2 linked regions of the Homo sapiens genome follow. The protein of the gene in region 2 interacts with the protein of the main gene of each other region in a pairwise test. Each region holds a gene or a part of one and is shown on either strand. Other genes may lie near its edges. The genes, in order: TRAF3IP1 and FGFR1OP2.

The links.
Region 1: the proteins of FGFR1OP2 (region 2) and TRAF3IP1 interact in a two-hybrid assay, tested with the Homo sapiens proteins (2 studies listed by IntAct).

The regions. Positions count from the first base shown.
Region 1 is NC_000002.12:238,390,210-238,406,385, forward strand, and holds the end of TRAF3IP1 (TRAF3-interacting protein 1), read left to right. Parts: intron 1-7,249; coding exon 7,250-7,470; intron 7,471-8,544; coding exon 8,545-8,710; 3' UTR 8,711-10,688; downstream 10,689-16,176.
Region 2 is NC_000012.12:26,950,481-26,966,656, forward strand, and holds the end of FGFR1OP2 (FGFR1 oncogene partner 2), read left to right. Parts: intron 1-3,664; 5' UTR 3,665-3,678; coding exon 3,679-3,813; intron 3,814-6,062; coding exon 6,063-6,180; intron 6,181-7,120; coding exon 7,121-7,263; intron 7,264-10,034; coding exon 10,035-10,148; coding exon of another isoform or gene 10,149-10,157; exon of another isoform or gene 10,158-10,271; intron 10,272-12,861; coding exon 12,862-12,975; intron 12,976-14,115; coding exon 14,116-14,253; 3' UTR 14,254-16,168; downstream 16,169-16,176. UniProt on the Homo sapiens protein: May be involved in wound healing pathway.

The sequences.
Region 1 (16,176 bases), on a different chromosome or scaffold from region 2:
ACTGCCTTTAGACACTGGATCCATGGTGAGGGTGCCACAAAAAGGTGCCGTGGGTGGTTCTGCGATGTTCACAGCAGACTTCCTCTGAGCTCAGGATCACCAACCTTTCAGCGGAGAAAAGAGCTTTGAGATGAATTTCATAGCTGTGGGTTATTTATATTCTTAAAATGGAGATGGAGAAGGAAGTGTGTCGATGAGGAAGGTAAATTACATTTTAATGAAAGAACTTGCCTGGACATGACAGCTTGTTAGGTGGTGCTGATAATATCTATAAATACTTTTTTCACTGTGCGCTAAAGTATTCCAAACATGCCTGGCTAAGAATGTTTCATAGCCAACAAGTTGACAGGAGGTAAAATAACTGTATCAGTGCACAGGAAAAAGCACCCATGCCTTGTCCTGGGGGCACTTGCAACTTGCTTCTTTCTGGGGAATAAATTTACGATAATGGTTAACATCTACTTGAGGGTTTACTATGTGTGAGGCACTGAACTGCTTACTTTATATTATCCCATTTAATGTTACCTGAAGGATAAATATTATTATTTCCATTTTCTTGTGAGGAAGCTGAGGTACAGAGAGGTCATTCCAAGGTCATAAAGTTAGGAGGTGGTGAGGCTGGGTTGTACCAGCCCCTGGAACCACAAGGCACTGACTGCGGGTCCTGCTGCCCCCGAATCCTCCTATGGTCTAGGTGGTTTTAGGTCATATTTTGTGTAATGACAGATTTCCTTTCCTTTTCTTTTCTTTTTTCTTTTTTGAGAAAAAAGGGTTTCGCTCTGTTGCCCAGGCTGGAGTACAGTGGCACAGTCTTGGCTCACTGCAACCTTCTCCTCCTGGGCTCAGGCAATCCTCCCTGCTTAGCCTCCTGAGGAGCTGGGACTACAGGTGTGCACCACCACGCCTTGGTAATTTTTGTATTTTTTTTGTAGAGGCAGGGTTTCACCATGTTGGCCAGGCTGGTCTCAAATTTCTGGCCTCAAGTGATCTGCCCACCTCAGCCTCCCAAATTGCTGGGATTACCGGCATGAGCCAACACACCCAGCCATGACAGATTTTCAATAATTAACACAGCAGGGGCAGTCATCTAATTCCTGTGTGGGGGTAATAGATCCTCAAACTACTATTGGATTAAAAGTCTTTAAAAACAAGGTTGTTTTTATCTGGAAAATTGTTGATATATCTACATGAGCAACATATAACTCGAGGTCTGTCATCAGAGAGGTGTGCTTTTTAAAGCAAATAATCACGGCTTGATGCGTTCACGCTGCCCCTGCTGTGTTAAATGAAAGCTTGAAAATTGCCAGAGTGTTGGTGTTTTGCAGCAATGTATTCCAGTGCCTTTATGCTAATAATAAAACCTGTCCTGACTATCACAATCCCAGCCCAAGTGTACTTATTTTAAAGTCTTAATCTCTTAAACATAAATTATAAGCTTTAAGATTAGTGTTCCAAATTCTGCTTGGTCCTGTGCAATAGAAATATGAGGAGTTTGGCCAGATTACCTCTTAGTGTCTTTTTCTACATTGTAACTCTCCAATTTTGTAAGATATTTGTTTATATTAGTCTCCTACCTTAAGGTCCATGCCCTAAACATTTTTATATTAGAGTTAACACGATGCCAAATGCACAGGAATTACTTGATAGTCATTATGAATGGGTTTTAATAGAAGTTTGAATTTCTTAACTAAGTCAATGAGACATTTACTAATTTGTGTATAATAAAGACAATATATTTTTCTCTTGGGAAGTAGCTTATTTTATTGAATTCATTTCAGTCATTTAGCGTCTTAATTTAAAGGCATTTTATATAGCCTTTTAGAAATTAAACGTTTGATATAACCATAGATTCATATCCAGTTATAAGAAATAATAGACGCCCAGGTGTGGTGGCACGTGCCTGTAGCCCCAGCTACTTTGGCAGGCTGAGGCAGGAGAATCGCTTGAGCCCAGGAGTTTGCGTTCAGCCTGGGCAACACAGTGAAACCCTGTAAAGAAAAAATAGTAGAAAAAGAAATAATAGAGATATACTGTATGCCTTTTGCCCACTTTCCCCCAGTGATAACATCTTACAGAACCATAGTACATTGTCAACCAGGATATTGACAATGAAACAGGATCCAGAACATTTGTATCACCTCAAAGATCCCTCTTGTTGCCTTTTTATAGCCACACCCTCTTCCCCCACCTCGAACTCTTCCTTCACCCCCAGCTACCACCATCAGTTCTCCATTTCTGTAACTTTGTCTTTCCAGAATCTTGTGTAAAAGGAATCCTACAGCATGTAACCTCTTGGGATTCACTTTTCTTATTCCTAATCCTCTGAGGGCCATCCAGTTTGTTCCATGGATTAGCAGTCTGTTCCTTTTTTTTTTTTCTTGAGACGGAGTTTTGCTCTTGTTGCCCAGGCTGGAGTGCAATGGCGTGATCTCGGCTCACTGCAACCTCGCCCCCCCACCCGGGTTCAAGGGATTCTTCTGCCTCAGCCTCCCGAGTAGCTGGGATTACAGGCATGCGCCACCGCGCCCAGCTAACTTTGTATTTTTAGTATAGATGGGGTTTTGCCATGTTGGTCAGGCTGGTCTCGAACTCCTGACCTCAGGTGATCTGCCTGCCTCAGCCTCCCAAAGTGCTGGGATTGCAGGCATGAGCCACCATGCCTGGCCAGTCTGTTCCTTTTTATTGGTAGATAGTTTTCCCTGGTGTGGATGCACCACAGTTTAGTTAACCAATTACCTATCGAAGGACACGGGGGTTGTTTCCAGTTTGTGGCTACTTTGATTAAAGCATCCGCATGCATTTGTATACAGGTTTTTCTATAAACATGAATTTTCATTTGTTTGGATAAGTGTCCAGGAGTACAACTGTTGGTTGATACTGTAGTTGCATGTTTAGTTTTATAGGAAACTGCCAAACTGTGTTCCAGAGTGGCCATATCTTTTTACATTCCTGTCAGCAATGAGTGATCCAGTTTTCCCTAACCAGCATTTGGTGTTGTCACTATTTTTTATTTTAGCCATTCTGATTGTTGTGTGGTGATGGCTCATTGTGGTTTGAATTCGCATTTCCCTAATGCCTAATGATTTCAAACATATTTTCATGTGTGTGTTGGCCATCCTTATATCTTCTTCAGTGAAATGTGTCTTTTGCCCATTTTCTAATTGAATTATTTGCTTTCTTGCTGTTGTGTTTTAAGAGTTCTTTGCATATTCTAGCTATAAGTCCTTTATTGGATGTGTGATTTGCAGTTGTTTTTGCTCATTCTGTGACTTACCTTTGCGGCTTCTTCCCAGGGTCTTTCGCAGAGCAAACATTTGAAATTTTTGTCATGCTTTTGGTGTCAAGTCTTCGAACTCTTTGCCTAGTCCTAGATCCCAAAGACTTTTTCCTCCTGTGTTTTTTATCTTAAAGTTTTATAGATTATATTTAAATCCATAGTCCATTTCGAGTTAATTTTTGTTTAAGATATGAGATTAGGTCAACGTTTTGTTTGTTTTTTGGCTTATGGATGTCCACTTAACCCAGTGCCAAATGGTGCAAAGCTCTCTCTGCCACTAAATTGCTTTTGTACCTTTGTCAAAGATTGCTTGGGCATATGGACATATTCGTATGGATCTACTTTTGGATTCTGTGTTCTGTTCATTTGATCTATGTCCCTCTGTCAATACTGCACTGTCTTGATTACTGTAATTGTATAAAAAGACTTGAAGCCTACGCGGTGGCTCACACCTGTAATCCCAGCACTTTGGGAGGCCGAGATGGGAGGATCACCTTAGCTCAGGAGTTTGACACCAACCTGGCCAACATGGTGAAATCCCATGTCTACTAAAACAAAAATTAGCTGGGCATGCTGGTGTGCGCCTGTGATCCCAGCTACTTGGGAGGCCGAGGCAGGAGAATCGCTTGAATCTGGGAGGCAGAGGTTGCAATGAGCCAAGATCACACAACTGCACTCCAGCCTGGGCGACAGAGTGAGACTCCGTTTCAAAAAAAAGCCTTGAAATTGGGTAGACTGGTTATTTCTGTCTTTATTCTTTTTCTGAAAATGTTTTAGCTATTGTAGTTCCTTTGCCTTTCTGTATACATTTTAGGATAATCTTGTCTATACAAAAACATTGGCTGCAAGTTTGGTAGGATTTGCATTAAACATGCGTATCGGTTTGGGGAAAATTCATGTCTTTACTGTGTCCTGTCTTCCATTCCATGGACACAGTGTGTCTTCTCATTTATTTAGATTTCCTTTGATTTCTTTCATCTGCATTGTTTCGTTTTCCATTTCCAAGTCCTATACATGTTTTGTTAGATTTACAACTAAGGATAGTCTTCTATTGAACAATTGTCAATGGCATTGTATTTTTAATTGCAGTGTCCATGTTTTCATTGCTCATACATAGAAATATAGTTGATTTTCATATGCTCATCTTGTATACTACAACCTTGCTGAACTCACTTATTAGTTGTATGAGTTTTACGTTTTACTTAAAGTCCCAATTATTTAACACTTTCTATGTGCCAGGCATTATGCTAAAGCTTTCTTGTACTTGTCCAAGCCAGTAAATGGTGGAACTAGGATCTTCATACATAAATCATTTATCCACTTCATTAGTTCATTTCACAAATTCTTAGGCAGAGCTTATGTGAATCACAGTGAATCTAGGCACAAGGTCCTGCCCTCCTGAGCCCACAGTCTGAAACTAGCAGAAGTAATGCAAGTGAATATGTAGCTATGATACGTTCAAATTAAATAAGTTGATTTGTTACAACTGAGTGCATTTACTAGCTCATTCTGTAAGTGGGTGAGGCAAGGAAGGGCCCCTTACCGGTCTGGAGTGGGTGGGGGGGTGTCCAGGGAGGGCTTCCTAAAGAAACAGTGTTGCAGGGCATGATGGCTTACATCTGTAATCCCAGCGCTTTGGGAGGGCAAGGCAGGAGGATCACTTGAGCCCAGGAGTTTGAGAGTAGCCTGGGCAACATAGTGAGACCCTGGCTGTAAAGAAAGAGAGAGAGAAGAAAGAAAGGGAAGAAGATAACCATCTGATCTTTGACAAACCTGACAAAAACAAGCAATGGGGAAATGTTTCCCTATTTAATAAATGGTGCTGGGAAAACTGGCTAGCCATATGTAGAAAGCTGAAATTGGATCCCTTCCTTACACCTTATACAAAAATCAATTCAAAATGGATTAAAGACTACATGTTAGACCTAAAACCATAAAAACCCTAGAAGAAAACCTAGGCAATACCATTCAGGACATAGACATGGGCAAGGACTTCATGTCTAAAACACCAAAAGCAATGGCAACAAAAGCCAAAATTGACAAATGGGATCTAATTAAACTAAAGAGCTTCTGCACAGCAAAAGAAACTACCATCAGGGTGAACAGGCAACCTACAAAATTAGAGAAAATTTTCGCAACCTTCTCATCTGACAAAGGGCTAATATCCAGAATCTACAATGAACTCAAACAAATTTACAAAAAAAAAACAACCCCATCAAAAAGTGGGCAAAGGATATGAACACACACTTCTCAAAAGAAGACATTTACGCAGCCAAAAAACACATGAAAAAATGCTTATCATCACTGGCCATCAGAGATATGCAAATCAAAACCACAATGAGATACCATCTCACACCAGTTAGAATGGCGATCATTAAAAAATCAGGAAACAACAGGTGCTGGAGAGGATGTGGAGAAATAGGAACACTTTTACACTGTTGGTGGGACTGTAAACTAGTTCAACCATTGGGGAAGTCAGTGTGGCGATTCCTCAGGGATCTAGAACTAGAAATACCATTTGACCCAGCCATCCCATTACTGGGTATATACCCAAAGGATTATAAATCATGCTGCTATAAAGATACATGCACACGTATGTTTATTGCGGCACTATTCACAATAGCAAAGACTTGGAACCAACCCAAATGTCCAACAACGATAGACTGGATTAAGAAAATGTGGCATATATACACCATGGAATACTATGCAGCCATTAAAAATGATGAGTTCATGTCCTTTGTAGGGACATGGATGAAACTAGAAACCATCATTCTCAGCAAACTGTCGCAAGGACAAAAAACCAAACACTGCATGTTCTCACTCATAGGTGGGAATTGAACAATGAGAACACATGGACACAGGAAGGGGAACATCACAATCCGGGGCCTGTTGTGGGGTGGGGGGAGGGGGGAGGGATAGCATTAGGAGATATACCTAATGTTAAATGACGAGTTAATGGGTGCAGCACACCAACATGGCACATGTATACATATGTAACAAACCTGCACATTGTGTACATGTACCCTAAAACTTAAAGTATAATAATAATAAAAAAATTAAAAAAAAAAAGGAAAGAAGGAGAAAGAACTGATGTTAATTTTCCCAAGCTTATTGATTCTTATCAACTCACATCAGTTTCTGACATTCAGAGATGTCTGTGATCAAAGCTCATATGAAGAGAATTCTAAATGTTGCATGGCAAAGAACCCAAGAACTCCTGGCCCAAACCGCATGCAGCTCCCCACTCGTCTCTGCGTCCTCCTCACCTCCTTCACCTGCTGCTGTCTCAACTTGACCCCTTCCATCTGGCCCCTGACCCCTGGACTCTGTGGCCTCCCTGAGCGGCCAGCACAGTCACGTCTAAGTCGACCTGACCATCTGCCTGCTGGGTGCTGCTGGCTGCTGCTGGCTGCTGCTGGCGCTGGCTGCCCTGCACATTCTCCATGCCCTCCTTTCCATGGCACCAGTTTCTGCCTCTCCTTTGGGTTTCTTTCCCCTTGCCCCCTGGCAAGCTGGGTTTTGAAGTCATTTGGGATGGAAGGTGGGCCATTTGAAGAGCTGTAGGGTCAGGCCCTCATTCTGCCAGTCCATTTGGGAAAAATCTTCCATGTCACTAAGCTCTTGTAACAATAGCTACAAAAGTTGCTTGTTAGTTGGGAACTGAAATCTGCCTGTATAGAGATTTGCCCTCAGATGGATTTCCAGGTAAAGACAGACCCCCATCCCCATTGAGCAGGGAAGGAGCGGCCCCTCCCTGGCAGTGCTGTGTCCTCTGATGGCGTGCAGCACTTCAGAGTTACTCTGTTAGGCAGCATGGCTCTCCCTTTGCATGGGAGTGAGTGTCCCACAACCAGCACTGTCTCTGCCTGCGCCTTTCCTCCCAGCCCCATGGCCGTGTGCTGAGTGCACCGGCCCTGTTCTGCCTTTGGACTGAGGAGGCGTGTTCCTCTTCCTATGTCTCCCTGACTGTAGGAGCGATCTCTCTTTGAGTCGGCATGGAAGAAGGAGAAGGACATCGTTTCCAAGGAGATAGAGAAGCTCCGCACGTCCATCCAGACCCTGTGCAAGAGCGCACTTCCCCTGGGGAAGATCATGGACTACATCCAGGAAGACGTGGATGCCATGCAGAATGAGCTGCAGATGTGGCACAGCGAGAACAGGCAGCACGCCGAGGCCCTGCAGCAGGAGCAGAGGTGGGGGGTAGTAATGGGGAGGGGGCCCTGCAGCAGGAGCAGAGGTGGGGGGTAGTAATGGGGAGGGGGCCCTGCAGCAGGAGCAGAGGTGGGGGGTAGTAATGGGGAGGGGGCCCTGCAGCAGGAGCAGAGGTGAGGGGTAGTAATGGGGAGGGGGCCCTGCAGCAGGAGCAGAGGTGAGGGGTAGTAATGGGGAGGGGGCCCTGCAGCAGGAGCAGAGGTGGGGTGTAGTAATGGGGAGGGGGCCCTGCAGCAGGAGCTGAGGTGGGGTGTAGTAATGGGGAGGGGGCCCTGCAGCAGGAGCAGAGGTGAGGGGAAGTAATGGGGAGGGGGCCCTGCAGCAGGAGCAGAGGTGAGGGGAAGTAATGGGGAGGGGGGCCTGCAGCAGGAGCAGAGGTGAGGGGAAGTAATGGGGAGGGGGCCCTGCAGCAGGAGCAGAGGTGAGGGGAAGATAATGGGGAGGGGCCCTGCAGCAGGAGAGAGGTGGGGGGGAGCAGGGGGATAATGGGAGGAGGCCTGCAGCAGGAGCAGAGGTTAAGGGTAGCAGAGGCAGGGAGTAATGGGGAGGGGGCCCTGCAGCAGGAGCACAGGTAGGGGATAGCGGAGTGGGGGGAGTAATGGGGGAGGAGGCCCTGCAGCAGGAACAGGTTGGGGTGGGGCAGGAGGGTAATGGGGAGGGGGCCCTGCAGCAGGAGCAGAGGTAGGGGTGTAGCGGAGTGGGGCAGTAATGGGGAAGAGGCCCTGCGGCAGGAACATAGGTGGGGGGTAGTGGAGGGGGGATCCCCAAAGTCAATGGGGACTTTGCTGCATACCTCCTTGTCCCAGAGGTTGTTCTGTATGTAATTTAAGGACTTCAAGATTATCATTGAAGAAATATTAACTGCTGCTTTTATAAATCTCATGTTTGACTTCACTTTTGGTTGTAGCAGGGGTTGTGAAAATAAGAAATAAATATTATCCTTTTCTTTGGATGAAACGAATAATTTACTTCTGTTGTCTTTCAATGTCTTAATTAAGAAGCCAACACACAATGAGATGAGAGAGTGATGAGCCGCTGGTTTTGTTCTCCCTCAGGATCACAGACTGTGCCGTGGAGCCCTTAAAGGCTGAGCTCGCGGAGCTGGAGCAGCTGATCAAAGACCAGCAAGACAAGATCTGTGCTGTGAAGGCCAACATCCTCAAGAATGAAGAAAAAATCCAGAAAATGGTATATAGTATCAATTTGACTTCGAGAAGGTGAACACTCAAAAGTTTCAGAGATGAAAAGTCACCTCAGTTTAAAAGCAAAAAGGAAGATAGAAAATCATTACTCTTTTAAGTTCCAGTTTGCTAAGAAAATGAACAGTTTACAATGTTATTATCCAGCTAATTTTCAGAGCTTTAAAACTGTAAGCATGTTAAGTGTATTAAAAAAACCATGTTTTCTTACCTCCTTCCAGATGGAATACTGGCTAGTTATAAATAGCGCTTCCAAACACCTCTGTGAAAAGTTTTTTTGAAAGCCTGTTCTTTGTGTTTCTGCTGTAACCTGTTTAGTTCTGTACCAGAACTCTCTAGCAGGTAAGTGGTGTGGGCATACCAAGGGAACAGTAGTCCTTTATTTTGGTTTAGTGGAAAGACTTTCAGAGGTCAGTGCCGAATGAAGGATGACTGTGTACTTTTTGATAGGCACTTGATAAGTAGAATGAGGCCTGAAAATGAATACATTATATTTTTAGTTAATTTCCAATGGAAAGGGCTAACCTCAGCCTGTCTCCATATCAGGTACCTATCAACTGGATTGTTTTCATTTTTGTTTTTTGACCTCTTTGTAATTGCATGTACTTCTCTATGTAATTTTCCTCTTGATCTCTACTATCGTTTGCTTGTGTTTCTAGTCCTTAAAGTTCATAAATTTAAAAAGGAGATTTCAGGATGGCCTTTATGGACGTTGTCTGGACATACATCCTCACTTTCTTCCGCAGTTTACCCTGGTTTTCCTCAGACAGAGGCTAGCGCAGCCCCCCGGAGTCCTTGTTCTCCTTAAGAGGGTCTCGCTCTGCAAAGCATTGGCGCCATGGCTTTTCCTTTGCATGGGTGTGCATACCGAGAGACAGGCAGCTTAGGAAAAACAACATAAGGAAGACTTAAAAGGATGCACTGATTTACGACGTTTTTTGATGTTAGCCATTTTTTTGGAAATTGTTTTTTAAAGCAAAAGTTTTTTAAAAACATGGTTTATAGTTTTTCACTTACATATACTATTGTAAATACTTAGCAGAGTCTTAAGTTACTGTATAAAACATTTCATTGTGTTTGAAGACATACTTATGGGTCTTGAGGTCTGGGTCCTAATACTTTTAAATAGTGTATTTATTATGTAAACTGAGGAGTGCCATTTAAAGTGTGAGGATTGCCTGAAAAGGTTTTGTTTCTTTCTTTTTTTTTTTTTTTTGAGATGGAGTCTTACTCTGTCGCCCAGGCTGGAGTGCAGTGGCGCAATCTCGGCTCACTGCAACCACCGCCTCCCGAGTTCAAGTGATTCTCCTGCCTCAGCCTCCTGAGTAACTGGGACTACAGGCGCACGCCACCATGCCCAGCTAATTTTTGTATTTTCAGTAGAGATGGGGTTTCACCGTGTTGACCAGGATGGTCTCCACCTCCTGACCTCGTGATCCGCCTGCCTCGGCCTCCCAAAGTGCTGGGATTACAGGCATGAGCCACTGCACCCGGCCAGGTTTTGTTTCTTTAAGGATTAGCACAAATGGCACCGTTGGGTTTTTCTTCATACAATTTCCAAAATAAATTCTGTACTCAGGTTGTTATATGATTTTCTGAGCTGAATAAGTTCAGGAGCAGATTATTAAGATCTGCCATTCTGAAACGCTGGTCTTTTTCTCCTTCCTATAGTGCACCATAAAATTCTGTTTGATCAGATTATATTACATACATTTTGGGGGAGTGGAGGGACATGAGTTAAGTAGCCCTTCATGTATTTATAATCTCTTTTCTACTGAATCAAATGACTTAGCCATGACCCTGAATGGACCTTGTTTTACTTCAAGTTGAGATGTCTGCCTTTTATGAATTTGTATATGTGAATAGAGTTTGGGGGTTGCCAAAAATTGCATACATTGTATGTAAGTAAAATTTTTTATGAAGTAGTCTGTCAAATTGTATCATAAAGTTTATTTTTCTTTTATACGTAAATCATTAAAAATAATCACATATTTTTTCCATAAGTGTATGGATTGTGCAGTTCGATTCACACATGGAAAAATCATAAGCATTTGGATTTTTTATTTTCAAATGTGTGTGTTTTGTTTTTCTCGTGAGGAAAGTTCAGGGAAATACATCTTTTCATTCATATTGTGACACATCTCTTTTCAGTATGAATTGAAGTTTTATAAGATAGGTAAGCATTTATCAGAAATTGTAAGATCATTTGTGAAGTTTTAGAAGGTCTCTACACGTGATTGTTACTGTATCTTATCCTACACACTAGATCCTGATCTTAATTTGAGAAATTTAATTTTTCTCTTATTTTGAGACAATACACAAATGGGATTATTAAGTATTTTTCTATACTTTGGTTTATAAGTTTTCAGGGAGTACTGGAGTCATACTTCAGGAATTTGAATTTAAAAGTTGAGCTGATGATAATTTATATTCAAAGGAAATGCATAATAGACCTTTGGAAGAAATAGTTCAAGACTAAAATGCAGCTTTCTACTTTGATATTCATCCTTATTTTTCTTTTTAATAATCAACTTTTAAAAACTGAAATCTATGAAGAAAAATGATGTCACTTGGTGACATGAAGTGCTACTTAGGATTTGGGTGATATGGAATTCTAGTCAGTGTATTAACGAGTGCCCCCGAACTATTCCGGTGCTAGTCTTCTGAGCTGCCCTGGACTGATGGGGTTTATCTTCTGTTGGTCGATGTGCACAGTGTCATGGCACACGAGTAAGAGAAAAGATGGCCAGGGCCTTTGAGCAGCTTTGGGATCAGTAGCCAGTGTGAGCCAGCAGCAAGCAGGATGAGCAGCCTGTTTGAGCTTCCGCAGGAACCTGCTTCAGAAGGAGGCCACGCCCAAGCAGGATCAAGGCTCAGCATGTCACCGTCAGGGAAGACACTAAACACCCAGACCTGGACTTGGCTCCCCACTCTGGACTCTTCTTTCCACACCCGAAAGTGCAGAGAGTAAATAACCTTGTTCATGGCGCCTCTACGTAGACCACTGTGGGCTCCTCTGAGGGGCTCTCCAGCAAAGACTAATGTAGCAAAGCAGAAGTAAGAAAAATTCTAAGTCAAGCATGAGCCAGCCTAAGTCGGAGGAGAAGGAATAGCTGTTCTCAGTGATTCTCAAATGTAACTACTTGCTACATTTGGGCTCTGAGTTTAACTCTATCATAGGATACACTTTATTAATAAAAATGTTTTATATTTTCCTAAAAGGTGTTTCAATAAGTATGGTTTATGCAAGCTTTACATTGGGGCATTAGTGAAGCCCCCTAGTCAGAACCCCTTTTTGATTATGTGTATTTTCATAAAGGGATATTGGGAGGGACTTTGGTTTCTTTTAAATTCAGCAAGAGAAATTTAAATGTCTTTTAAAGCTGTAGAACTTGACCGGGTGTGGTGGCTCACGCCTGTAATCCCAGCACTTTGGGAGGCCAAGGCAGGCAGATCACCTGAGGTCAGGAGTTCGAGACCAGCCTGGCCAACATGGTGAAACCCTGTCTCTGCTAAAAATAAAAAAAATTAGCCAGGCGTGGTGGTGGGTGCCTGTAATCCCAGCTACTTGGGAGGCTGAGGCAGAAGAATTGCTTGAACCAGGGAGGCAGAGGTTGCAGTGAGCCGAGATTGTGCCACTGTACTCCAGCCTGTGTAAAAGAGTGAGACTCTGTCTCAAAAAAAAAAAAAACAAAAACAAAAACTATAAAACTTGTTTTGGCCAGCCGTGGTGGCTCATGCCTGTAATCCCAGTATTTTGGGAGGCCGAGACGTGAGACTCACTTGAGCCCAGGAGTTCGCGACCAGCCCTGGCAACATAGTGAGTGAGACCCCATCAAAATAAACAAAAAAGCCGGGCATGGTGGTGTGTGCCAGTAGTCCCGGTTACTCAGGAGGCTGAGATGGAAGGATCACTTGAGCCTAGGAGGTTGAGGCTGCAGTGAGTCATAGTCATGCCACTGCATGCCAGGCTGGGTGACAGAGCAAGACCCACTCTAAAATAATAATAATAATAATAATAATAATAATAATAATAATAATACATAAAACTTGTTTTTAAATCCATATATAGAGCTGAATTCCAAATTGGTTATCAGTTTCTTAAACCAAGCAAATTGGTCTTTCTGTTAAGAAAATGGAGTTCAAAAGAAAGTTAAATTACACATATTACAAGAAGGTTGTACTCTGGTCAGTCAGGGCAGAATCACATCCTTGTAAATGAATGCAGTCAAATGTGTGTGTCCAGATTGGTGGGCGTGTGGTGTTGGCGAAAGCACCATAGAAACCTCTGGGTGTCTTCTGATGAAGCCGGGCACCCAGAGCCATGTGATTCCAGGAGATGCTTGTGGAACAAGGCTGGGCTGGCCCTGCCCCACTGGGCACACCGATGGTAGGGTCTGATTTATGTTCTCCAGCAGCCAGGCATGACACTTTGTGGATAGTGCTATGTGTAAGTTTTTAAAGAAAATTATCCTTACTGTCAATCATGTATCAATATCACCCTTAGTCGTGCCAGGTATTCATGTTGGCATAACTAATTCATATTCCTAAAGTATTCATTTCTTCTTATTTAAAGGACTTTTAATGGAAGAGGTAATATATTAGCATGGATCCACAATCACGGTTAGCTGAAAGGGTCCTCTGTGAGAGGTCCCCTCCCGTGGTCCCTGTCTGCCTTGCTTCTCCTTGCCCCTGTAGGCAGCCATTTGCATTAGACCCTTGTACAAGCAGATAAGAATATTTACTTTTATACCCCTGCAACATACAGTTTCACAAAAGGTCATAGTCTATACCCTGTTCTGAACCTTGGCTTTTCGGATTTATGCAGTCTGGGGACCTCAGAGTGTCCACCCTAGACACCGTCCTCACTTCTCTCCAGGCTGCGTGGATCTCCCCCTGCGGCTGCCTGGCTTCTCCTGCTGGCTCCCTGGTGCTCAGTCGCGTGGTTTCTAGTCTTCCGCCATTAAAAGCAATGCCGCCGCGAATAGCTTTGTTCTCCCATCATTTCTTCTGTGTGGAGAGATACCCGGAAGTGAGACTGCAGGGTCAAAGCACAGTGTGTCGCCATATTGGTGGGTGTTGCCAGATGCTGTTTGTGGGATGGTTCCATGTTCCTGCACCAGAAAATATGTGGAAGTGTCTTTTCCCTGCAGCCTTCCAGCGGCGGATGGCCACACGTAGACATTTCCACTGCTCAGGCGAGAAAGAGGATCTCAGCATGTTTTCATTTACACTTTCGCATTTTGACTGAGTTGTAGCCTCTCTTGATGTGTTTAAGGGTCATTTGCTTGTTTGCTTTTCTGTTCTGTGAGCTGACTGTTCAGCTGCTCATTTGCCCTTTGTTCTGTTGGACTCTTGGTTTTCCCTCCTGGATTTCTAGAAGCACTTCGTGTTTTGAGTTCATATTATTCCCAGATTGCCTTTTGACTGTGCTATAGCTTCCTTGCCCCAGTGCGATGCTGGACAAATACGAAGGACAGTCCTTGTGATTTTATAATTGGTCCGATGCTGCCAGGAACGATGGCGACGGCTGTTTTCTCGTGTTAAAAACAGACTCTTCTGATCCTGGTTACAGAGAACCTCTAGCAGGAATGGATGTTGAATTGTTCTTGTGATCGCATTTTGTCTCCTTTGGCTTAGTAATGTGCTATTCTCGATTACCCAACATGAAAATATCCTGCGTTCATAGATGAAGTCTTGCGTGCTCAGTCGGGCTGTTCCTCCCTCATGCTGAGTAGTTCTGCCGCACATGCGTGAATCCACTGTTTCTTGCTGCCCGGTGCTTGTCAGCCGGCAGGGGGGTTGAGGGCATTACTCTGTTGTTTGATTAACCCCAGTCTTAGGTAGACACCGTGTCCCTGGGTCTTGGCTGTAGCTGGGTTGGGGGCATACTCTGTTGCTTGATTAACCCCAGTCTTAGGTGGACACCGTGTCCCTGGGTCTTGGCTGTAGCTCTGGAACCAGCTTGCATTCCTGCCCCTCCCCCAGGAGTCAGGGTCTCCTATTCCTTCCCAGCTACAGGGGTTCCCCCAGTGCCCTAAGGCTGACAGGTTTCTCAGCTGCCCCTGCACCGTATTTTCTGTCCCAAAGGGGAGAAGATTCCAGCAGTAGTTCTGTGCCCTCCAGCAATGACTACCGTTGGAAACTTCTCCCCTCTGGGACAGAAGACACCGTTCAGGGGCAGGTGAGAAGCCTGACAGTCTTAGGGAATGGGGAAACCCGCTGGAGCTGGGAAGGGAGTAGGAGACAGGGCCCATAGGGAAGAAGGGTCTTTCTCAGGTGTGCACAGCAAGGGACACTTCAAACTTTCTCCAGTCTTTCCTGAGAGGTTTTGTGGAAACAGCCTTGGGGAGGCAGCTGACCCCTGTTGAGGCCCTGGGGGCTTTGCGTTCTCTCTCCTGGAGCACACTTGTCCTGCAGCCGCCCCACTGAGCTTTGCTCCCCAGGTTGGCCTGCACTCCCCTGCCCCCTCTGGCAGCTGGCTGTCTGTCCTTAGGTTTGTCCAGCTGTTTTTCATCTAAAGAAACTCCAGCCAGGCACGGTGGCTCACACCTGTAATCCCTGCACTTTGGGAGGCTGAGGTGGGCAGATCACCTGAGATCAGGAGTTTGAGACCAGCCTGGCCAACATGGTATAACCCCGTCTCTACTAAAAATACAAAAATTAGCCAGGTATGGTGGCACGCACCTGTAATCCCAGCTGCTTGGGAGGCTGAGGAAGGAGAATCGCTTGAACCCAGGAGGCAGAGGTTGCAGTGAGCTGAGATCACGACACTGCACTCCAGCCTGGGTGACAGAGTGAGACTCTGTCTCAAAAAAAAAAAAAAAAAAAAAAAAAAACCCCAGAGTTTAAATTCTGAAGTCGCTGCTTACTACTTCTGAAGGTGTTTCCTAGGTCTTAACCCAAACTGGGTTGAGAGGCCCTTGACACAGATTGACTTTGAAAGTCTGGCCCAAAGCGGTGCCTCGCTTTTCACCCCTGGCCTCTGTATCTTGTTCATGGATCATGCTGCATTGTTTCTGAAGCACAAACAAGGTTTATTATCAACAGTAAGTGGCAGATCTGCGTGGGGTTCAAGCTTGAACAGGAAGTAGCTGAGGCGAGAACCACAGTGTGTGTGCCCCGCGGAGCCCACAGCATAGGCCCTGACTGCCAGGCCTCCCGTCCCACCACCGGCCTTCTGGGGTTGTGGCTAGACCCCTCCTCCCCTGCCCAGTTTTGTGGGTGGTGGGCATAGCTTCAGGCCTTCTTTCACCTTTTGGGCTTCATTCCTCTCCCCTGCCAAACCGCGCCCCTGCAGGGTAAATTTTGCCCATTCTTGAGGTGGTGTGGAAGAACACAGAGTGTGGGTCAGGACACCTTCCTGTCAGGCGTGGATGTGTGATTTGGGGTGCTCCTATCTGTCTCTCCTTTGAGCCTCAGTTGTCCACTGACAGGTCATCTTAGCCACGGGGAGCACACGTGGCTCATGGGTGCCTGGTGATTGTT
Region 2 (16,176 bases):
CTCCCAAAGTGCTGGGATTACAGGCGTGAGCCACCGCACCTGCCCTGTATTCATTGTTTTTAAAAGGATATCTGAGAAACCTCTTTTCTTTGCAGCATTTCAGAGAAGTGGATTATTCTAAAAGCATATCACCTATTCATGTATATATTTACTTTCAGTAAGTTGCTCCATCTTAGTGGAGCACAGTTAAGTCATTTGATCAGTCTGGCTTCTGGTAAGAAATTGAATTTTATCACAGTGACTGATGTACCTGTTGCATATCAAGCCTGATACTGCTGATTTTTGTTTTTAAGATAAAACCCATTAACAAACAGTAAAGTCAGGATTTGGTACTAGAAAATTCAAAAGTTTTGTTTTGGACTTGAATACTTCTTGAGTTATGGAATCACAATCATGAGATTTTCCTTGCAGTAGGTAAAGGTTGCTGGATTAATACTGTTACACAGTGAATGGTAATATGAAAAAGAGAGAGTAGCAATATTTCATGATTACTCAAATGATAGAAATTTTGGATGGTTTCCTTTAGCAATAGGGATTTACTATGCATGGTAACATGAGGTTTAAAGACCTAGAATAACCTCTGAAGATGCTTTGATTAATTCAGTTGAGGTTTATAATTGCTCGGAGGCAGGGAAGCTAAACCTTAGCTGCTGAATTAAGGTATACGATTTTTTTTTTTTCTTTTTTTGAGATGCAGCCTCACTCTGAGGCCCAGGCTGGAGTGCAGTGGTGCTATGGCTCACTGCAACCTCTGCCTACTGGGTTTAAGTGATTCTCCTGCCTCAGCCTCCCAAATAGCTGGGATTACAGGCACCCCCCGACCAGGCCCGGCTAATTTTTGTATTTATTTATTTAGTTAGTTATTGAGACAGCCTGTTGCCCAGGCTGTAGTGCAGTGGTGCAATTTTGGCTCACTACAACCTCTGCCTCCCAAGTTCAAGCAATTCTCTTGCCTCAGCTTCCTGAGTAGCTGGTATCACAGGTGTGTGCCACCACGCCCAGCTAATTTTTGTATTTTTAGTAGAGACGGTGTTTCACCATGTTGGGCAGGCTGGTCTTGAACTCCTGAATTCAAGTGATCTGCCCTCCTCGACCTCCCAAAGTGCTGGGATTACAGGTGTGAGCCACTGCGCCCAGCCCAAGGTATACAATATAATAGACAGTGGGGTTTTGATGTCGTGTTGTTAATACTCCCAGGACACAGGGTACTATTTTTGTACTCAAAAAGATTTATGATTATGTAGGAAGACTATCTAGACTGAGGGCTATTTAGCTATCTGATCATATATAGGACCTTATTGCGTTTTATTTGGAAACAGATCCTGTCTATTGCATTTGTAGATGTTATGTTTTAGTGTGTAAAGAAGGGTTCTTCTTATAGTAGTCCCAACAATATCATTTACAGATTAGGACTGTTAGAGAGTTCTATTACTTGAGTTCTATTAAACCAAGGTAAACTTTATTTTCTCTCAAATCTTTTACAATTTGTTGTAGAGTTTCAAATTTGTCTTTTATTACTTTCACCATCTGTTATAAACTATTATTTTTACTATAAAACCAATTTTTTTGGTTATTTCATTTTTCTTAGTACAAGTCAGTGCCCGTCCTTTTTTTTTTTTTTTTTTTTAATTTTGCTTTACAGACAGCTTTAAAAGTTTACTCAGAAGGATCCGATGTTCTATAGTAATGGGATTAATGGGAGTTATAGTGATGTCCATTTAACCTATTTATGTTAACTTTCTTAACAAATAAGAAAGTTGTCTGTCTACAGTTTTAGATAATTTCCTTTGGAAATTTAGAGGAAGTACAGGGTATTGTTGGGCACTAATGCCTCTCTCAGAACGGCATCTTCGGATAGATTTTGGGTAGTTGTCCTTTTGGGTATTAGCCAGTATCAGACAATATTGGTTCCTTTAATGGCCCTTTTACTCCTCATATTTTCAAGCATCCTTATCTAAACCTCCTGAATCTTACAAGACAAATCTTGTGGTGGTTTTCTCTAGAGAGCCAGAAGTTATATTAATTTCCAGCTTGTTTACTTCTTAAGGCTCTCTGGAAATGTCTGATCATATATTGGACATTTTCTAAATTGGCGATTTAAATAACAGGAGAAAGTCTTCTGAAATTGCCTGATGTGTTTTATGAAATATTTTATACTGTTGAGTTATTTAAATTTTCTCTTTGCTACTTGTTGCTTTTTTTTTTTTTTTGTATTGGAGGGGATAATCATTAATTGGACTAGTTGGTACAGATCTGTAGTCCAGGGCAGTGGTATATAACAAAGTCCTGAATTCTGTGGCAAATTGCTGTTTTAATAAAGTTGATGAAAGTCTTTGTTTATAACCCTTCACTTGGATCTACACCAAATTTTAATTTAACTTCTGTAGACGTGGCTTCTGGCCTGGTAATTTAGTGTGATTTTATTTTTTGAGGAAACCCTGAAGAAAGGATGACTTATATTGAACGTTAGGTAAAACTTAGTAGAAAGATAAAAGATTTCAGCTGGGCACGGTGGCTCACACGTGTAATCCCAGCGCTTTGGGAGGCCAAGGCGGGCGGATCATGAGGTCAGGAGATCGAGACCATCCTGGCTAACACAGTGAAACCCCCGACTCTACTAAAAATACAAAAAAATGAGCCAGGCGTGGTGGCAGGTGCCTGTAGTCCCAGCTACTCGGGAGGCTGAGGCAGGAAAATGGCGTGAACCTGGGAGGTGGAGCTTGCAGTGAGCCGAGATCACGCCGCTGCACTCCAGCCAGCCTGGGCGACAGAGCGAGACTGTGTCTCCAAAAAAAAAAAAAAAAAAAAAGGAAGATAAAAGATTTCAAGGAGGGTAAGTGTAAGTTTCAGGAGAAACTTAAAGTTTTGGAAAGAGACTTTAAAATTATTAAAATTTTGTTTGAGGTTTCTACATACCAGTTGAAGAAGCTGACAATTGACTGTTTCATGTTTTGTCTCATATTTCTTTCAGCTACTCTTAAACATATTGCTTACTGATTTTAGCATATCAGAAGTTTCCTGTAATTACCAGTTTTGTCCTAAGTCAAAACTTTTTTTTGCACTTTAAGGAAGATGCAAGAGTTAGAATTATAATGCAACTTTATGTAAGAAGCAGAAGTTCTTCCAAGAAGAGGTTGAGACTTTAATGTAGCATGACACATTGAGGCCACTTCGGCTGGTCAGCAGTGTTTGTGAACAGTGTGTCAAGTCACCTGACCAAGCAGAGGTTAGGAAGCATTCTTACAGTCAAAGTTTTCAGACAGTCATTGACCCCAGAATACTGACCAGTAAACCAAATGATCTTCCTCAAAAGTGACAAGATAGGGAATGCCCTCATAAAGGGCAAATTTCTATATAACATTATATTCCTTGGACATGTACTTTTTTCCCCACTGTAAATTTAGAGTGTTTTAAATGCGTTCTAGTTCTGTCTGCAAATCTTTTAACTGTGTTCTAATTTTTTTGTAATAGTATAAATTTACTTTCAAGTTTGTAGTATCCTAACAGAAGCAAAACCACAGTGTTCTTAGGTGTTTTTTCCTCCCTGGACAGTGAACAATACTGTAACAAATGTGGCTTAAGAAGCATATCTGTGTTGACATGAAGCTAAAATAAAGAGATATGTTGACTTTATTTTGAGTCTTGATTTTAATTTTAATTATAGATATATCTTTAGAAATGAGTTGCACAATTGAGAAGGCACTTGCCGACGCTAAAGCTCTTGTTGAAAGATTAAGAGATCATGACGATGCAGCAGAATCTCTGATTGAGCAAACCACAGCTCTCAACAAGCGAGTAGAAGCCATGAAACAGGTTTGATTTTTCTTTCTTGTTCATTCCATTTATCAAAAGCAGTCATTGACATTTATGTATTGCTGGCTAATTAGTATCTAATTTTTTTCAACATTCTCTAAAATTTTAAAGTAGCTTGACTTGTGTGTTTCAGGTTTACTTTAATTTTGTCGTGTTCAGGTGATATACCTAGACATATATTTCTAAACCCTAGATTTGATCACTTATTTTGCTGACAGAGTTGCACATTTGAGTTTAGAAAATAAATGAATTTGTTAGGTCTAGAAACATTTGACAAAGACCAGATAATACCTTTTACTAATGTTGGTACACATTTTGTTCTGTCTTGTATAATGTAGAAATGTTCATATTTTTCTTTATAAAAGTACTTAGGTGATGCTGTTTAACAACAAAATAGCTTTTGAAAATGATGCAAGGTAATATGTGATTTATACTCTGTGCAGTTATTGTACCCATACTTGCTACCTTATTTTTCATTCAGTGCTACCAATTAAAGAATACATAAGGGCTTTCTTCTTGCTATTTTTACTATTGTATAACAGAATATTCCCATGGGCCACGGAGTTTAGACACTATTTTAACCTTCTTCTGATAAAAATTTTCAAGTCATTTAAGAAAATTATAAAATCTCTGACATTATGATGGAAATCAGAGGGGGAAAATGTATATTCACAGCCAAATCTCCTCATCTATTTTGTAAAAGGAAGCAATTCTGGGATAGTATTTTTAACAAAGCTACTGGAAATAGTGGAGCAAGTTTAGTTATTTGGTTTTACAACTGTGTTGCCCTAAACAGATTTACCTGCATCCCTAACCAACTGTCCAGCTAGACTCAGGCACTTCAGTGAACATATATCTGGTATTGAGTTGTTAAAAAAGGAGTTTGACATCTGAAGTTAAGAACCAGGAGTGTTATAATGAATATGTTACTAAGTGTCTCATGAGAATGCCTTGAAAATAAATAAGTGCAATTTTAAAATAAGATTCTCATTTTCTTAATGGAAAATCTTTTTGCATTTCTTTTGTACATGTTCTATTAAGATATTCACATACCATAAAATTTACTTTTTTGAAGGGTACAGTTCATTGGATTTTAGTACACATTTGCAGGTTATGCAGTATAACCACTACCTGATTCCAGAACATTTTCATCACCACAAAACCTTACATCCATCAGTGGTCTCTCTCTAGTTTCCCCTTTCCTCAGTCTCTGGCAACCACTAATATTTCTATCTCTTTGAATTTGCCTATTCTGGACATTTCATATAAATGGAATGATAAAATATGCGGCTTTTTGTGATTGGCTTCTTAACATAATGTTTTTAAGGTTCATCTATGTTATAGCATGTATCAGTACTTCATTCCTGTTTATTGCCAAATAATATTGCATTGTAAGGATACAGCACATTGTGCTTATCCATTCATCAGCTGATAGGCATTTGGATTATTTTACTTTTTTGGCTGGTAAGAATATGCTGCTATGAATATTTGTGTACAAGTTTCTGTGTGGACATATGTTTTCAGTTTTCTTGGGTATATATGTAGAAGTAGAATGGATGGGTCATATAATAACTCTGTTAAAATTTTTTGAGGATCTGCCACATTGTTTCCCAAAGCAGCTATGCCAAGCTTGTCCGACCTGTGACTTGCTGGCTGCATATGGCCCAGGATGGCTTTGATTGCGGCCCAGCACAAATTCACAAACTTTCTTAAAACATTATGAGATTTTTTTTTTTTAAAAAAAAGCTCATCAGCTATCGTTAGCATTAGTGTATTTTATGTGCAGCGTGATAATTCTTCTTCCGATGTGCCCAGGGAAGCCAAAAGATTGGACACCCCTGAACTACATCATTTTACATTCCATCAACAATGTATGGAAGGTTGCAGTTTCTTCACATCCTCTCCAACAATTGTTATTGTCTTTTTCATTACAGTCATCCTCGTGGGATATATTGAATTGCATTCTCCTAATGACTAGTTAGGTTAATTAAGTATCTTTTCATGTGCTTATTGGCCATTTGTATATCTTCTTTAGATAAATGTTTATTCAAATCCTTTGCCACTTTTAAAAATGGGGTTATTTTCATTTTATTGTTGAGTTGTAAGTGTTCTTTATATATTCTGGATACTAAGCTCTTATCAGATTTTTTATATGTATATTTCAGATATATTTATATTTATATATCATATATATATATATATATATATTTGCAGGTATTTTCATCCCACATGTTTTTCTCCCCCATTAGTATCAGGAAGAAATTCAAGAACTTAATGAAGTCGCGAGACATCGGCCACGGTCCACGTTAGTTATGGGAATCCAGCAAGAAAACAGACAAATCAGAGAGTTGCAACAAGAAAACAAAGGTAAGATACGTTACTTTTTGACATTAATCCCATTTCTAGTCTATATTCCTAAATCGTATTTATTGCTCTTTATCCTGTCCCACATATGAACATCTGCCTGGTTGACATCCTCTTAGATTCTCACCCTTAATATCCAGTTAGCACTGCTGTTGTTAGCTATGAAATAACCCAGCTTCATTCTCTGCAGTCCCACTGCATTGGCCCCCAGATTAGATGCTCAGTCTCTTGCCTGAAATGTCCAAACTGATCTCCCTGATTCCAGTCTCTCTTCCCCCTTCCAATCTGTCTTCAACATAACCATCAGATTGATATTTCAAAAATCAGTCTGATCATGTAATTCTTTTGCCTAAGAACTTTCATTATATACTTATTACCTTTTACAGGGTCCCTAAAAATCATTTCCCAGCCTTTTTTTTAAATCTTCTTCCCACAGCTTTCTTCACTGTGAACTCTTTGCTCTTGCCAACACCAATCACTTCCTAAACACGTCATCTGTTTTCATGCCTACCTGCTTAGAAGGTCCATTCCTTCACTTTTCAACTGAGGGAACTCACACTGTACTTCTACAAAGCTTCCACCAGTTTCTTCCCATAGACATCTCTTAAATCTATTTGACTTAACACTCCACTCTGCCACCTACCACATGCTTGTTTTCTCTACTAGACTCTTGAGGTCTGTGGCCCTTAATATAGAGGGAGCCTTGGCCGATATTAATTGCTGTTTAGTACATCTTTGTTGAAATGATTCTCAAGAAACAAGCTTAAAATATTCAAAAAACTAATACGGGACTTCATTTGGTGTCTCTTATTGTTATATGGCTAGATTTTTGTGCATTGTGTTTTCTTTTTAAAATGTCCCGTTCATAAGTTGCTTAGTGGAAGAGAATATTTTGTGTACTTTTAACTCAAGTTGGAATAAAATACAATATTATTCTTGATAGAATTACGTACATCTCTGGAAGAACATCAGTCGGCCTTGGAACTTATAATGAGCAAGTACCGAGAACAAATGTTTAGATTGCTAATGGCTAGCAAAAAAGATGATCCGGGTATAATAATGAAGTTAAAAGAGCAGCACTCCAAGGTAATCCATTCTATAAATGTGACCTGAAATGGAAAAGAGAGACGATTGATTATTCTGTGTTCAGATTTTTTTTGAAAAAAATCACAGGTATCTAGTAATGGCATTTTAACATGATGTTGAATGTTTCATCTTTTTAATTGACATTTTCTCCTTTTTCTTATTTTTCCATTTCTTGTTATATATCATTTTCTGTTTGATTTATAAACTCTCACTGTTTCTTAGAAACTTTAATTTGTACGTTGAAAAATAAATTTTATTTTGGATATAAAGGTAAGTCTGGTCTCTTCAACATTATTTTTGTAGGGCTATATACTTTTAAGAAATATTTCTTAAAGGGCTGGGCATGGTGGCTTACGCCTATAATCCCAGCACTTTGGGAGGCCAAGGCAGGAGGATCACTTGAGGCCAGAAGTTCAAGACCAGCCTGGGCAACATAGCATGACTCCATCTCTTCAAAAAGTAAAAAAATTAGCCGGGTGTGGTAGCACATGCCTGCAGTCCTAGCTTCTCAGGAGGCTGAGGTGGATAGACCACTTCAGCTCAGGAGTTTGAGGTTACATTGAGCTACGATCATGCCATTGCACTCCCATCTAGACAACCGAGTGAGACCCTGTCTCTTAAAAAACAGAAATTTTTTTAAGAAACATTTTTTCTAATAAATTTGTGTATTGACTTCTCTTGCAAAAACAAAAAATAATGGAAACCTTTTTTAAAATCTGAAAGCAGTTTAATGTAGATTTTTCTTAAGACTGTTTTCTGAATAAGGCTAATTCATCCAGACTATAAATGATCTTGTTTATTATAATGGAAAAAACATGGGGTTCAGGAGAAGAACCAACATAGTAAAATTTTGCTCCCTTGCCCCAGTATTGTATACCAGTTGACATCATTTTTTAGAAACAAAGCTGAAGTAGTTAGAAATTAGTGTTTTACCTGCTGTTCATCCCTTTGTCATCCCTGTGTCTATTCCCTTTGGTATGTCCCCATATTTTATGGCATATTTTATGGCAACTGCTATGAAGACAAGTAGAATAATCCTTTCTCACATATTTATTTTAAACTGAGTTTTAGTTGCTGATATGAAATAAAAATAATAAACTAGATTGTGGAAACTAGACTGTTACCTGTATTAGATAATGGTGAGCTGACTATTATTATTACCAATATTATTTAAGAAACAGTGATTATGAGCCTTCTTTTCCCCATTTGTTACAACAGAAATAGGAAAGGACATATTTTCATATTTATCTATTATTGAAACACATTTTAGATTCTTTAAAATACTTCTTCCATTTTGGTGCTTGTACGTGTTTTTAACTTATTAGTAATTAATTCTATTAGAATTAAATACCTATCAAATAGCTCTTTATATGCCTTTATTATATTAGAAAACCTAATGATAGGTACCTCTTGTGTCAACCAGTAAAATAATAAATTAAATTAAAAATTTGTGTTTAATGTTTTCTAATTATGCTATTCATCTCCTAATCAAATGGCAATCCAGGGATGTTTAAGTGGTGATCTTTTGAATACAAAATTTAACTATTGTTAATGAGACCATTCTAAAATCATTTAAATTTAAAGGTATAATAATAACTATAGTAACTAAGACTTTTTAAAGGCACTAAAAGGAGTTGACTTAATATTATTTGTAAGATAAATATAATCTTGAGAATTTCTAAAAGGTTTGTATGTTTTATAACCTAAAAATAAAATGTTAAAGATCTAAAGCGAAGAATACCATTACAAAAAAAGTGCTTAGAATAGGATAACTATAGCTTGCAGGTCCCATCTGGTAGCAACTATGACAGAAGCAAATGTTTCCTAAAATATATTAGATTTTACTATTCACCAGAGCTGGTTTATTAATTAGTAAGGTTAAACATTTCCTAAGATAGCTGTAAGCCATCCTTTTTTATTATGTAGATTGAATTCTTCATCTAAGTTCAGATGATCCTTGCCTCCCATAAAATGACTATTCAGTTATTTGTTATTAATTTTCACTAATACATATTAATGTTTGTGATTTTGATTTTTCCCAAAAAGGAGACACTTCGACTTAATTAAACAAACATTAATACTGGCACTGGGTTAGTTATGGGAAATAATAAGATGAATGTACAAGCTTGCAGTATAGTGGGAGATACAGACACAAACATAACAATCTACTATAAGGTAGGGCGTGATGAATCCCAAAGTAGATGAATTGTTACTGGAACGCTAGAGGGAACAATATTAACTGTCATAAGGAAAATCTGGAAAGGTAACAAGGAAGGGAAGAAAGTCTGTCTCAGTCCAGCCTTGAATTAATTATGGGCAGGTAGGTAAACAAGCAGAAGTGGGTGGGTGGGCAGAGAAACTTGTATAATAAAAGCACAAAAAGTATGGTATTGTAGGGTGTGTTTAGGTACTAGTGCTCTGATATGCCTAAACACAAAAGTAATTTTACAACACATTTAGAGCTAAGAAACAGAGTTACACATAACAGCATTTTGGATTGGAGTAAGAGATCCTTTTGAGACTGTTATAATACAGAACTTTGCCCTTAACTAGAAGTTTTTGAGCACATACTTAAAAAATCAGTAGAAAGTTTGAGAGCTCATTTTTACCCAAATACTAATTTTCATGTTATTTTTGAACAGATGCCTTTTTGGAAATCTTAAAAAAGCAAACATTTCAAACAGTTGGCTAACACGCATGAACTAACACTCATTCAGTTTTTAAATTACGGATGATATCCGTATTAACATTATAATGACTCTATACTACAGATTGACATGGTACATCGTAACAAGTCCGAAGGATTCTTCCTTGATGCATCTCGACACATCCTTGAAGCACCTCAACATGGACTGGAGAGAAGGCACTTGGAAGCAAATCAGAATGTACACTAAATAAACAGTCAACTTTTGGGGTGTGGATGGAAGGGGGGTCCATTTTAAAAGTGCTTTTACATTGAATTTCCCTCCCAGATTAGATCAGCAAATAAATGAAATTTATTAAAAGAATGTTGTGTCTTTAATAGCCATGCTGTTCAGTGTAGAAACTTTAAATCTCTCATTAATTTTCTGTGTATTGTATCATGTACAGCCTGTTAGATATTTGCAGGTTTTATAGGTTATTCAGTCCAACGCTTTATTTATTTGCTCTTGTTAGTTGTTGCTGTGAAACAGTCATTTCCTTTCTGGACATCAAAGATATTTTCTTGGCATTAATTTTAAACTGATTTCATAAGGTCAAAGTATTAAATGTTTTAATTCAGATTGTGGATAGTTTGTAGTCCTTTGATTTTGCAAATGAAATTAAAATGCCTTTGTTTAGATGTTAGGATTAAGTATAGTAGTGCTCTCTCCATTGTGTCTTAATTTTTTTTTAACTCACTTGTGGCAGGTCTTTATTGAATAAAGGAGGAATAAACCTAGACAGGGAGTTAGAAATGAAAGACATTTCAAGACAGTTCAAGGGTTATGTTGGTGACACTTCTTGTCTTCCAGACAGTTTTGAAAGCACAGATCTTGCCTCTTGTGCTTGTTAAAAAATCTGTGATACTTCTCTGAAGATTTTATAATTAAATAAGTGAACCATTACCATGACCTTTTATAAAAGTGCTGCCCTATTTGAAGTATTGGGTTTTTTCTCATGATGAGCTTTGTTAGACTTGGTACTGAAAAAATCAGTAGTTTTTTTCCTTCTATTTTAAAGGCAAAGAAATGCTTGCTTCAGCTAGGCATGGTGGCTCATGCCTGTAATTGGGAGGCTGAGGTGGGTGGATCACCTGACGTCAGGAATTGGAGACCAGCCTGGCCAACATGGTGAAACCCCATCTCTACTAAAAATACAAAAAGTTAGCCAGGCGTGATAGCGGGTGCCTGTAATCCCAGCTGCTCGGGAGGCTAAAGCAAGAGAATTGTTTGAACCTGGGAGTGGGAGGTTGCAGTGAGCCGAGGTCGTGCCATTGCACTCCAGCCTGGCCAACAAGAGCGAGACTCTGTCTAAAAAAAAAGAAATGCTTGCTTTCTGTGTAGTTTTTTAACTTAGGTCAGTGCCATAGGACTGACCAAATCATAAATTGAGGATGCTGTTGGTATTCAAAGTTTTTACTCATTACCCTTACTCAGTTTGCAGCTGCAATGATCTGTACTTAACCTGCTTTTACATATTATGCTTCCTTGACAATGGGAGGAATTTTAATGGTTAACTTGCAGAATATGACAGATACTTGTCTTAATATCATTCTTCCTACCATAATCTAATTCAAAACTATCCAGTAGAACTTTCTGAAATGATTGGAATGTTTTTTATCTGTGCTGTCCAGTGTGGAAGCCAGTAGCCACATGTGGCTGTTGAGCACTTGCAGTGTCACTAATGCGTTTGAGGGACTGAATTGTTAATTTTTAAAAATGTATTGATTTTAATTAAGTTTAACATTGTTTTGGACAGCACAGATTAGCCTTTTAGAGTACCTTCTTGCTGAGTACTAGCAGTGTATAGGTTTCCCCATGAAAAGGACCTACATTTTTGTTGGTTAAGAGGTTATTAAATGTGCTTTGCCAAAGATACTACCTTGTCATTTCTTCCAGCTTATTAGTTCCGTGGGTTTCTTGGAGTACTGTTAAATCCTTTTTACAAATATATATATACACAACTACTGAAGAGACTGTTTATTTGGGGAGTTATTCACTTTTATATTTAAGTCTTAGGCTTAATATGATAAAATACCTCTCAGTTGCTGTGAATAATGGTCTATAGAAGCTGTTCATTGAGAAAATGATTATTCTCGAGTTTCTGTTGATTTTAAACCTTTTTTGTCTGTCTCTTTCACTAGACTGTAAGCTTCTTCAGATCAGGGGACATGTCTTGACAGTCTTTGTATTCCTGTTGTTTAGCATAGTACTGGCACATCATAGGTGTGCAAGATAAGAAAATGAGATTGGAAGAATTTATGCTACTTGCTGCGCCTAACAAATGTGGATGTCTGTATTATACTGATACTATATTTTCAATAGTTAGCAAAGAAGGCCATTTAATATTTTAATACTGAAAAGCAGAATTGTGCTCATTTTATTCAATACTTACCATATACCATACACTAGATAGTAGGTGGATGTAAAGATGCAGTTCCTGCTCTCAAAGAGGATTATGACCTAGAAAAGGTTACAGATTGGATTGAGATAACTTTATAGGCCTGAACAATACAGAAAAGATTTCTAAATCATTGAAGACTTCAGGGAGGAAAAGAGATTGAATGCGTCGGCAATTTTTATCATTCCCGTTACTTTGAACAATAGTGTATGTAAGTGCAAAAAAAAAGAAAAAGTTGCTGATCATTGTGGTGAGAGGAATGTAAAATATGAGTATTTTTCTTGCTGCTAGGTTTAGTTATATTGTGCTGCTTATTCTTAATTCTAGTCCTAACAAATTTGATTTCAAAAGCACATCTGTGGTCAACCAACTTCATTGTTAATATTTGTTTTATTCATATTAAGTGACAATGTAAGAATATTCATGTTAAGTGGTACTGCAGATTTTATAAAAAGGAGAGGATCCAAAAATAAAAAAGTATTTTGCTGATTTCCAACTCCCATCCCTCTTTTTCAGGAACTGCAAGCACATGTTGACCAGATAACTGAAATGGCAGCAGTAATGAGGAAAGCCATTGAAATTGACGAGCAACAGGGTTGCAAGGAACAAGAACGAATATTTCAACTTGAAGTAAGTTTTACATTGCAAATGTAGATGAAAACTGTCCATATAAAGATTTATGCCAGAAAATATATCCCATTTTTAAATATATATTTACTCTTCTTGGGTACTGGTAATGTTCTCCTGGATGCTGTCTATGTGGGCATATTATGCAAGACCATTTATGTGGTGATGCAAGAATCTAGGATTATTAGTAACTTACAATATACCAGTAATGTAGAAAATTGATGTTTCATTCTATATTGCTTATCTTATGAAGTGAATGTACTTCTTCAATTGAGTCATTTTTAAAATTTTGTTTATTCTATTAGAGATCATAGTGATACAGGGAAATTTTTTTTAATCCACAAATATTTAGGGGCACTCTTATTTTTCTGGGGATTCTAAAAACCTTTGTCATCTGTCCTTTATTTTATGACAGTGAAAGTACCAGTCTCTGAATAACTGAAATCAGTACAATAGACTTTTATGCCTTAAGAGCTTCATTTTGAAATCACGGCGGGGAACCTGCTTTAGACTACTAAAATTTAGAAAGTGAGACTGAAGATAAAGTGATAGAGAACAAATTATGAAAGGTTATTGTTAAATGTCTACAAATTTTTTTACAGTAACTAACCAAAAGGAGGCCAGAAAGCAAAGTTATTTACCAGTGCCAGATTTGGTCACTTACTTTCCTTCTTGAAAAATATCATCAGCTACCCCTACCCTGCTGCTCTCAAATGCCAATGAGCTAAACTTGTCCTACATTCCATGCTATCATGGAAAGTAATAAAAATACTAAAAATTACTAGGAGATTCTAGCCTATTCACTGGCTTTACGAGTTTATATAAAAATAAATCTAGATGTTATTTTCTTCATCTCTAATGTGATTGTAAAATAAGGCAATTTCTGAGCTTCTGTTTACAATTATAGCTGCTTAAGTAAGAAGGCTTTGCAGTGGTGGAAGATGTTGAACACGATTCCTAGCTGCATAAGTGTTCTTTAGATTCAAGTTGCCAACTGCATATATCATTGAGTAGATTAATGCCAATTACAGACCTTGCTTGTTTGTTATACCTTCATATGTTCAGTTTTTCCTAACATATGTTTGTGATGTTGTAGCTACCTTGTAGATAGTGACTGCATCTTTGTTTTTGCTTGCCTTTTAGCAAGAAAACAAAGGCTTGAGAGAGATCCTTCAAATAACTCGAGAATCATTTTTGAACCTAAGGAAAGATGATGCGTCGGAAAGTACTTCTTTGTCAGCATTAGTGACCAACAGTGATTTGAGTCTGAGGAAGAGCTGAAGAGTTTCTGAGTCTGTGAGCTTCTTACATGGCTCCAAATGGTCAAATAAGTGAATGAATGAATGGACAGAAAATTCAATCCTTTATTTTTTTCTCTGTAAATATGTACAGTGCACGGGCTATGAGATAGCAACAAAAAATGCATAGTTAATGGTCATAGACTTTATTCCAAAACATAATTGGAAAATAGAAACTGAGCCATTGCCAAATGGTAAAGAAATGAAAAGTTTTCACAGTGACTACTGAATATACCAAGAGCTTTTGGCAGTACTGCTGGCTTTCTGGGTGATTAATTAGGTAAACTTGAATATTCCCAGTAAATGTTTGAGAATGCATAAAATTATACCAATTTAAAAATATAAATTTTTGCCACTGTTTTGTGAACGGAGGATTTGTACGCTAAATTTCATCCTTATTTGGCGTCAAAGTTGATGCAAAGTTTATGTACCATGAGACTTCTAGTGATTGCCTACTTTCACATTTATTTAAATTTTTGTGAAAGAAAATACAGTTTTAAAGGCTATAGGAATGTGTTATATGTACCTTAAACAGATAATTTAATTTTAGCAATTTATCATAACTGATACTTAGCTAACAATTGTCCATAACTTGTTTAAGTGTAAGAAATACCATTTCAGGAATGAAAAAGAAGGAATACTACTTTCTAAGAAAGAAGATCTTATAATAGACATATTTAGTAGGTTAAACTACTCCTTTGAAAGAATAAGTTTTGGTTCAAAGTCAATAATGAAGACGAGATTTGTTTTTCTCTTCTCTGGCTGATTTTTAAGGATATTATGTAGTTCATTTAGTTAACAGAATTGAAATGTTTGATATGGCAAGATAGGTATGGTAATTTCAAAGTGAATTGGGAATTCCTCTGGCTCATAGAACCCTTTTTTTTTTCCTTTAAGTATTCTTGAGATACAAAAAAAAAAAGTAAATACAATTTCAAAAAAAAAGTTCCGGATCTGTTTTTAAGCTCCATCTGGTCCTCATAACCTGCAAGATTTTTCTTAAAACCTTTCAGCTGAAAGTGGGGGTAAAGGTGGAGTAATCTGTGGATTTGTTTCTGTTGTCTTTTAAAATGTCAAATATATAATATGTAATTTTTTTAAAAACCACCAGATACAGAAATGTGCTTTAACATCAGTTGAAACCTAAATTTTCTTATGTTGTGGTGATTGTATTAAAAAGGGATAAAAGAAGAGTGTCAAACATGGTTAAATATATTGTACTCATTTATGTTGAATACGTATTAAAATTAAGACAAATGGAAAATTATACTTTGAGTATATAATTTGTTAAATATTACTTTATATGGTAATTTTATGTATAATTTCATATATTGGTAAAATTCAAAACTACACTTGAGAATTTTTTTATCTTAAGTTTGGGGTGAATGGGGTGGATGAGACTGATTGAATAGAAAAGGGCTAATGGCCCAAACATTATATAGATTTCTTTTTTTCAGTCAGAGGCCTTATTTGATATTTTATAAATAAATGACAGTTTTTATTTTTAAACTTTTTATTGTTTTTGGGAAAGTATTCCTTAATTTAATGACACATTCATTCAGATACTTCTTATCCCTGCTAATAAAGGAAATCTATTTCAAGCTACACCATTGAGATTAAGTCTGAGGCAGTTCATTGAGGCAGCTCTACTATAAAAGCTTACTTGATAAATAATTATTTTTGTAAACAAGTTGGGTTAACTTATTCTTCGTCTTTTTGCTTGGATATGAATTTAAGGTCTTCATGTTTAAAGACATTTACTTTGTTATTTAGTGACACATTTCCATCCTATTTTTTTTTTTTTTTTGGTTGTTGTTAAACAGAACCTTAAGTTTATGTTTGAGGTATGTACTGCATAGGAACCTATTTTATTATTAAAGATGAATGATTAAAATTGGTATGGTCT